2 linked regions of the Homo sapiens genome follow. The protein of the gene in region 1 interacts with the protein of each later gene in a pairwise test. Each region holds a gene or a part of one and is shown on either strand. Other genes may lie near its edges.

Region 1 (4,508 bases):
GTTTAAGTAATCAGGAAACTTTGGTGGGGAGGTTGGGGTGGGGTGGGGGCGGGGGGGTAACTTCTTTATTTAGCATTAATCTCAGCAATCATGAAAGTCATGGAATTTCAAGTGATGAAAAATTTGACCACAACAATACCTATCACTAGCCTGGTTTTGCCCACTTCTCGAACAGGAATTATAAAGATAATAATTAATTCTAAAAAGCAGAAGACAAAACAAACAAACCAAACCAACACTGAATGAACTAATAAGGCTGCTGCATATATATGTTGGAGTTGGATGTTTATTTGCTTACTGCAGTAGTTTAAAAATAGTTTTCCAGTTAACATCTTTTCCACATAGTGGAGATGTCAGGGTAGGTTTACATGATTGCGTAAATGGTCAGAAGTTGTTTATGTAGCTCTGAACTGCTGAGAGATGAGCAGGAAGACCTGGGTTCAGCAAAACCCTTGGGGCTTTTTCCCAGAGAGAGAAACAGAGGCTCCTCTCTGGGTTGCTGGAATGCTTTCCAGACGAATTCGACTGGGTTGGCTTTTCTCTGCCTGTCAAAGTCACTTTGCACAGTGCTGGTGAGGGGCTGGGGCATTGCTGCCAATCTCTACGGTTACCCCGAGGTGTGGAGTTGCGGCGAAGGGAGCCACTTCTGCAAGGAAACAGTAGATTCATAATGTAGAATGACCGTGGCAACGTCGTTCAAAGCACATTCTTTCGAATAACAAGGCTTTCGACATGCCCCACCCCCGCGCACAACACACCACAAATTGATCCTTGTACCTAATTTACAGCAACTGTTCCCTCTGACCTCCCCCCGCCCCCGCCCCACATTCCAACCTGAAAGCACTTTGCGTGGATGAGACTTCAGGTGTGTAACGCAGCCTGTCCAGCCAGTGTCCTCCGCCTAAGGACAGGCAGGTAAAAACCTACCAAAGCCCCCTCTTCTGGCCTAAGTTCAATGCCACCCGCCCACCCACATTCCCCGGTTCAGCAATTTTCAGCCCAGACGCAGAAGCATCTGTTTCCCTGGCCAGGGCGCCTTAACGATCCCCCGAATTCCGCGTCTCCCGGAGGCCAGAGGTTTGGGTACCCAGGAAGGTCGCGCCTCCTCGTGCCCCGATACTCGGGTTGTAAAGGGAGGAGACATCGCCTCGGCGCATCCCTGGCCGCTGAACAACGCAACCCCTACGTCCCCGCACGGGAATCCGGCTGATAATCTCCTCTTGCCTGAGAATCGGGCCAGGCGCCCTTTACTAATTTCGCGCGCTGGGGACCTGGGGCTGCCGCCTCTCGGCCGCGCGGGGCAGGTGCTGCGTCCCCAGCGCTCGCCTCCTCCGGCCGCGCACTGAGCATGCGCGGGCTCCGGGCCTCCGGCGCGTCTCCCCGTCCCCGCTCGTCTCCCGCCCGTTCCCACCCGCCCGCGCCTCTCCCCTTCCCCGAGCGTCTCCCCCGCCCCGCGGCTAAGGAGCCGGCAGCCCGAACTCCGGCGCGCCAGGTTTTTCCAGCCGCCGCGAGCGCCGGGAGGGAGGGCAGCGCCGCGCCAGACGGAGCCCGGGGTTCGACGCCAGGATTGGCTGCAAGTAGGGAGCTTTCGCCGCCGCCCCGGGCCCCTCGGACTGTGCCGGCGCCGCACCCGAGGCTCTCGCCAGCCCGGCGCCCCGGTGCTGAGGTAAGTGAGGCGGCAGCTGTGCGGGTCCGGCTCCTGCGTGGGCGCGCGATGCCCCGGGGACGCGGTCGCGGGTGTGGGGGGGAAAGGGCAGGGTCCGCGCGGGTTGCCCGAAGGACAGGGGCGCTTCCCGGGGCTCTGACTCCCGCGGGGCCGGGCAGCGTCTGCGGGGCCGTCCAGCTCAGAGCCCGGAAGCCCTGCAGGGTCGGGGAGCGGGAGCTGAACGCCTGAGCGCGGAGGACTCAGGGCCCCGACGACGCCACCGTCACCCCACAGCGACCCTTCTTCTCCTTCTCAGCCGGAAAATAAGTTTGTTGCGCTGCGAGGCAGCCACAAAACAAGGAACCGAGAGCCCGGAATGCTGCGGGAAGCCTTCAAGTCAGCTCCTCCGACTGGTTCGGGCTACTGCCCCCTCTCCGTGCGCCCTGGCCTCTGGCGCCGGGTTCCCGGCGGGGCTTTTCTTCTGACAGCCCAGTCACAGCCCGCAGCAGAGGGACGCGAACCTGGGGAGTGGAGGGACCTGGGACTAAAGGAACAGGAGCCCGTAGCCGTGGTGGAAGGAGCCGCGTGGAGACGGAGGCTGATGTCTGTGGCGCCCGCTGGGTGCCGGGCTGGCTGCTGAGCGCTGAGGCTGCGGCGGCGAGCGACAGGCCAGGTGCCTGCTCTTAGGGAAGGTACCTGGCTTCCCCAGTCTCTGCCGCGGGAGCCTGTTGGGTGGCATTCGTTTCCAGCAACTTCTGGGGGGTTTCCAGTTTCTTTCGAGAGGCAAGACAACCGCCCCGTCCCCTCCCCGGGCCCAGACGGCGGCGAACTGTGCGCCGGGCGCCCCACAGACCCCAATCCACTCACTCTCCTTCTGGAACGCGGGGCTCAAAATCTTCGTGCATTTTCTCTCTTGTGCTTCGTGTATATGTTTTACTATTTATGAAGGGTGTGGAGGTGAGGGTAGGAGGACGTGGGCTCCTGAATCCCTCTGAACCAGCCAGAGAGTCGGCTGCATGGAAACATTTCGCAGCGAAGCTCCTGCGAGGAGGCGGCTTCGCGCGTCGGGAAGATCAGGCGGTTGCTTGCTGGCCAGGGTCTGCAGATTCGGTGCGAAGAAGCTGGCGGAGGTTGTGTAGGGCGAGTCAGTGTGACTGAGCACCCTGGGTGTGTGGTCTGCGTGGAGGAGAGTGGGCCGGATCTTGAGGTGTGTTGGAGGTTTATTTGTAAGAGGAGTTCCTGAAAGGAATGTCGTGGAACTTTTTCTAGTTTTCCTGCTGGAATCAACATAGGGGCGGGCACATGTTTGTCAGAATAACAGTGGCATTTAACTGCATGGGAAGCTCTTTCAATTTTCTGTAGTGGGAGCTGGATAGTTCAAGGAGTAACTCCACATAACTGAGTCGTTTGGATACCCACACAAGATAATTTGGAACGCGCTTGTATTTTTTTGTTTTTTGAGATTTCTGGTTTATGTCCTTTAGAGAGTGGGGTAGGAGCGTAAAGACTGTATAGGTTGCCTATGAGCAGGTCCATACAATAGCGTTCCCAAGTCTGCCTAATAGCAAGTTTGTTCTCTCTTTCTCTCTCTCTACCCAAGTGGGTGAAAAAGAACAGTGTGTCATGAAGACAGGCACCTGGAGGTGATTTGGGTGGCATTCATGAGAAAATTCACGTTACCCGTAAGTTTATTCTTGCTATTTTTATCTTGATTTCTTTAAAGATTTTGTGGGAATATCTGCAGTGGGTCGCAGGAGTAGGTAAGATTGCTAAGGATCAAAAACAAGTTTCATGAGAATATTATTTTTGCTACCTTATAAAATAGCTATTGATTTGTTTGTTGAAGCTGGTTTCAACTGCTCTGTCTTGTTGAGGAGAGATGATGCTGATAAACGTCATTATTTTTCCATCTGAACCCTGGGAGGTAGCTGGCAAGGATGGAAAAACTGACCTTTTCAATTAAAGACTAAGAGTCTAAGAGAAGTGACTTGGATAAGGGTGCATGTCAGAGCCACATGTAAGTTTCAACAGAGGTAGATTTTCCTATTTGCAGTTTTTTAAACAACACTTTTCAGTTTCTTTGAGTTGTAAAACTTTTCAAGTCAATTGGGAGTCAATGCAGTACCTTTTTCCATGGTCATTTCATATTGGCAGGTAATTAAGAGTGATTAGAGAACAAACCTTTCAAATGATGTTGGATTTTTTATCATTCACTTATTTTACCTACTTCTCTCTCCTTTTTGTTCAAAAGTAGGTCTTCTGATTTCTTTTCCGATCTAAGCACTAAATCTTTTGGCTGCAGTTTTTCTTCTGAAATGTATACAGGGCATCCGTTCCTTCAATTTAGGTCTTAAAAAAATAAAGCTGCTCAGCAGAAAATTCCCATGCATGGTACTGACTTTTCTACAAGTTTGTCTGATCATGATTTTAACTTGTTGTTTCTTCTTTGTTATATTTGAGGACAGACATAATATGCATTAGCTTCAATCTCTCTTATCTTAAAAATTAATATTTTGTAAAAACTTGCTTTTATATTATTTTAGTTGAATAAGTCTATTTCATATGATAGGCAGGGGGAAGTCTCTACACACTGATTTTTTTTGTTCCTTTTTGTTCATTTTTCCCTGTAATGCTATGTTTTAAGCCTAGTGAAGGAGGCAAGGAGGCAGGATTTACTGCCTAGATTTATTGATCTTCATTATTATTATTATTTACTATCAGAAGAAATCTGACAACATATCAATAAAATTTATTTATAAACTGAAGACATGCTGTTATATGATACACTACTTATAAAACACACAAAGAAACAAAAAAGATGAATAAAGCAAAAATTATGAAATAGAAGGTCTCATGTTGCTGT
Region 2 (3,811 bases), on another chromosome or scaffold:
CACTTTGCCTTTGTTATATTGTTAATGGTGACGCTAAGATAGGTACGTATATACAGGGTTGAGTATTAAGGAAATAACTTGCTCTTTGGAGTCTAGTGGCCTGGATTTGAACCCTAGATCCATCACTTAGTAGCTGTGTAATGTTGGGAAGTTACTCAAACTCTCTCTGCCTCCTTTTTTCTTTATGCTGAGGAAAAAAGTATCTAACTCACAGGATGATCATGAGAATTAAGAGTTAATACATGCAAAGCATTTAGGAAATTGTCCATTGCATAATAAATTTTTTAAAATGCTTATTATTGTTAATATTATTATGTAGAAACACTTATTCCTATTACCTGTTGAGAACTTTTTCATTTTTTAAATAGAAATTAAAACCAACTAATAATTTAACTTTTACAAAAACTTTAAATAGCACATTAGTCTTTATATCATTGTATTTTACAGCGTAATTACTATTCATCAATTAACTTGTATTTCCATGTTTTATAGTTACAGGTCTGAGGAAGAGGTACAGTGACTTAACTAGGCTTACCTGATAAATACTAGGATTAGTGCTGAAATCCAAGTTCTCTTGATTGATTCTTGATTGTAGGCAGTAAATACTTTTCCTTCATAGGCCCTATTTCCCTACTTAATCAGAATGCTTATCATTTAACAGAATGCATATTTTTTATTTATTAAACATTCCATTAGGTAGATGTCGTATAATAGGTTAAAAAAAGATGGGACAGAGGCTTTATTGGTTTAGAAATTTTCCTCACTTAATTTTGACAACTATTTAAATAAAAGTGCTTGGGTAAATAGAAGTTAAATGAAATAAGCCAATAACATGTTAGTTAGGTATTTTAATCATAAGTATATGATATGAATGAATCTGTGTCCTTCACTTATCCTGTATTTATAGAACAATTATAGGTAAAGCAAGGGTGTCCTCTTACCACTTTACTATCTGAGATATAAAAGCAAGTTAATGACAGATCAGAATTTGTCGTAAGCATTTCCAAATACCATCTGAAACATTAGATGAGGCCTTTTGTTAGAGATTTTTTTGTATAGGAACTTGGCCTATAGAAACTTTTACCTTCAGAGTTCTAAAATTTCGTGCAACTTTCATACTCCGTGCTCATTTAATGTACATGGGTGGTCAAGTCTCTGGGTAGACTGAGGTAGACCCAGTACTAGTGATTTCCTTGGGCTCACATAGGTGCCATCTTTTTTTCAGGCTGCCTCTGTGCCTGTAGTTCACATTTATTATCTGTTTAGGATAGATATGCTCCTAGGTTCTCTACCAGGGTATTTTTTTATTACTATTTTATTACTCACCTTGGCAAGTATGAATAGATATTACGGCGTTTATGATTAAATTCATTTAAATCCATTAACGTAACTCCACTTTGTTGTAGATGTATTCGTGTCAATAAATTTCAGAGAGTTGATCCTGATGTCCTGAAAGCCTGTGAAAACAGCTGCATCTTGTATAGTGACCTGGGCTTGCCAAAGGAGCTCACTCTCTGGGTGGACCCATGTGAGGTGTGCTGTCGGTGAGTTCTCAAGTTTAGAGGCTGAACTGATGACCATGCTGGAACTAATTTTATGACATTCTGTCATGTACGGCCTGCCTGTGTATCTTTATGGCCAGGAGCTGGTGGTTTAACTCTCTCAGATGTAAATTTTATGAAATACTTTTCTGGAGGTGATGTTGAAGGACTAGTTAGATTTCTGCTTTATAGCCGAAAAAAGAAACTGATTAGGCGGGGGTTTTCTAGTAGTGCTTTGCCAAGAAGCTTATTGTAGACCAAGAAGTAGACACCTAGATTCCGCTAGGTGTCTATTATCTTTAATTGGTGGTGCACTTGTCTGTCTTCAAATTAAGAAGCTAATCCCAAATAATACTGGATAACCACTTTTGGTTTGTTTCTGTTTCTGTTTATTCTCCCTCTCTCCTCTTTTTTTTTGGGACGGAGTTTCACTCTTGTTGCCCAGGCTGGAGCGCAATGGTGCATTCTTGGCTGTCTGCAACCTCTGCCTGCCGGGTTCAAGTGATTCTCCTGCCTCAGCCTCCTGAGTAGCTGGAATTACAGGCGCCCACCACTGTGCCCGGCTAATTTTTTTTTATATTTGTAGTAGAGATGGGGTTTCACCATGTTGGCCAGACTGCTCTCAAACTCCTGACCTCGTGATCCGCCCGCCTTGGCCTCCCAAAGCGCTGGATTACAGGCGTGAGCCACTGCGCCCGGCCTCCTCCTTTTTGATTATGTAAGTGACTGAGTGATACTTCGTGGTTTTATTTTTATAATGGAAGTTATTTTTCACATCTCCTAATGAATAGAGTTGTGAAAGATCAGTGCTAGGTATGAAATCTTTTTGAACTCCACTTGCTCAAAAACCATTATTTGTGGACCAGGCACTCTCAGTTGTAGGGTTTTCAAAAACGAAAGCAACATTCTGCTTTTAGGTAATTCAGTTTGAAATTGAGAAGAAAAGTAAGCAAATTACATTGTTATCTGATTTATGTTAGAAATGTGTACAAAATGCAGTGGTAGGTTGCACAAAGTAGAAAGTTACTGCATCTGGTGAGGAGTCAGGAGACTACTGAGTAGGTGATACTTGAGCTGGGAGGTGAAGGATGAGCCATGGTTGACCAGGTGACAAGGTGGGAAGGATGTTCTAACTAGCAGGAAGAAGATGAACAGAGGCATGGAATTCCTGCAAGAATTTTCCTGTGGCTCTGCCTTTAGGATGTTTCTATTTGGTTTTGAGGTACAATTCACCTGACCACCTGGCCTCTTTATTGATTGTAGTAAAGTTGCTTTTTGAAGGAACCCTAACTATGTACTCCTAAGGTGGTCGCAGACTGACCTGATTCCAGCAATGAAGGTGGAGGTGAAGACAGGAGAGATGAATTACATGATTATTCTTCCATTAAATTTTGTCAGGACCACCGCTTGAGGTTACTACCTGATTTGCCAGTGGTTGGTGTAAGTTTATTGCTTTTGGAAACCAGATGTAGGTGGTAGAGGTTTGTGATAAACATTCTCCAATACTTCTTTCTCGGGTAGAAAAGGAGCAAGCTATCTCAAATTTAGGTCTGAGAAAATAAACATTTTTAGATTCTGGGACTAATTAAGGACCTGCTTTAGGCTAGTTTCAGACTTGGAAAACTTTGGCCACTGAACCTGTGCAGAAGACCTCCATTTATAAGAAATAGCTGTCAAAAAGCTACTATATTGAATTGTTTACTTTTTAATTTGACCTGCACTTAGATCCTAGTTGGCTCCTATTTAACACACAGTTAAGTTAGTTGTGTGGTTTCTTAACCCATGAAATGTGAGAAGCAGCATTTTAAAGAGGGTTGATGAGTCAGACGCTACCAAAAAATGTCATGTGGTCTGACATAGAGGCAAAAATGAAAAAGCTAAAAAATCAGCACGATTATGTTATCACACAATCAAATAGTTTACGTTCAATATAATGATCCTAAACCATCAGGGGAAAGTTTTTATGTCCAAGGATGTTTAACAAGTTACATAATTATATAAACATTTTGGACCTATGTATTTAAAATGCTTAAAATAAGTCTCAGTACCTGAACATAAAAACTTTAGTTATACGGACATTCTACTTCAGTAGACATTTCATTACTTGATGATGCCTGGTAGGAAAAAACTGCTACTTTGCTTTCATCTTATTAATCTTAGAAAACCTTTTCATTCAGTAGGCTTCTAATTTATATGTAAATTTGCCAAAAATTGGCTCTGATGTGATTTTTTTCACAGCTAATAGAAATCACCTGCGAGTGTCAGGTGTT

What was found.
Region 2: the proteins of CNTN4 (region 1) and BTG3 interact in a two-hybrid assay, tested with the Homo sapiens proteins (one large-scale study listed by BioGRID and IntAct).

The regions. Positions count from the first base shown.
Region 1 is NC_000003.12:2,097,313-2,101,820, forward strand, and holds the start of CNTN4 (contactin-4 isoform a precursor), read left to right. Parts: upstream 1-1,553; 5' UTR 1,554-1,666; intron 1,667-1,961; exon of another isoform or gene 1,962-2,852; intron 2,853-3,003; exon of another isoform or gene 3,004-3,245; 5' UTR 3,246-3,327; exon of another isoform or gene 3,328-4,508. UniProt on the Homo sapiens protein: Contactins mediate cell surface interactions during nervous system development. Has some neurite outgrowth-promoting activity. May be involved in synaptogenesis.
Region 2 is NC_000021.9:17,602,593-17,606,403, reverse strand, and holds part of BTG3 (protein BTG3), read left to right. Parts: intron 1-1,406; coding exon 1,407-1,544; intron 1,545-2,127; coding exon of another isoform or gene 2,128-2,259; intron 2,260-3,811. UniProt on the Homo sapiens protein: Overexpression impairs serum-induced cell cycle progression from the G0/G1 to S phase.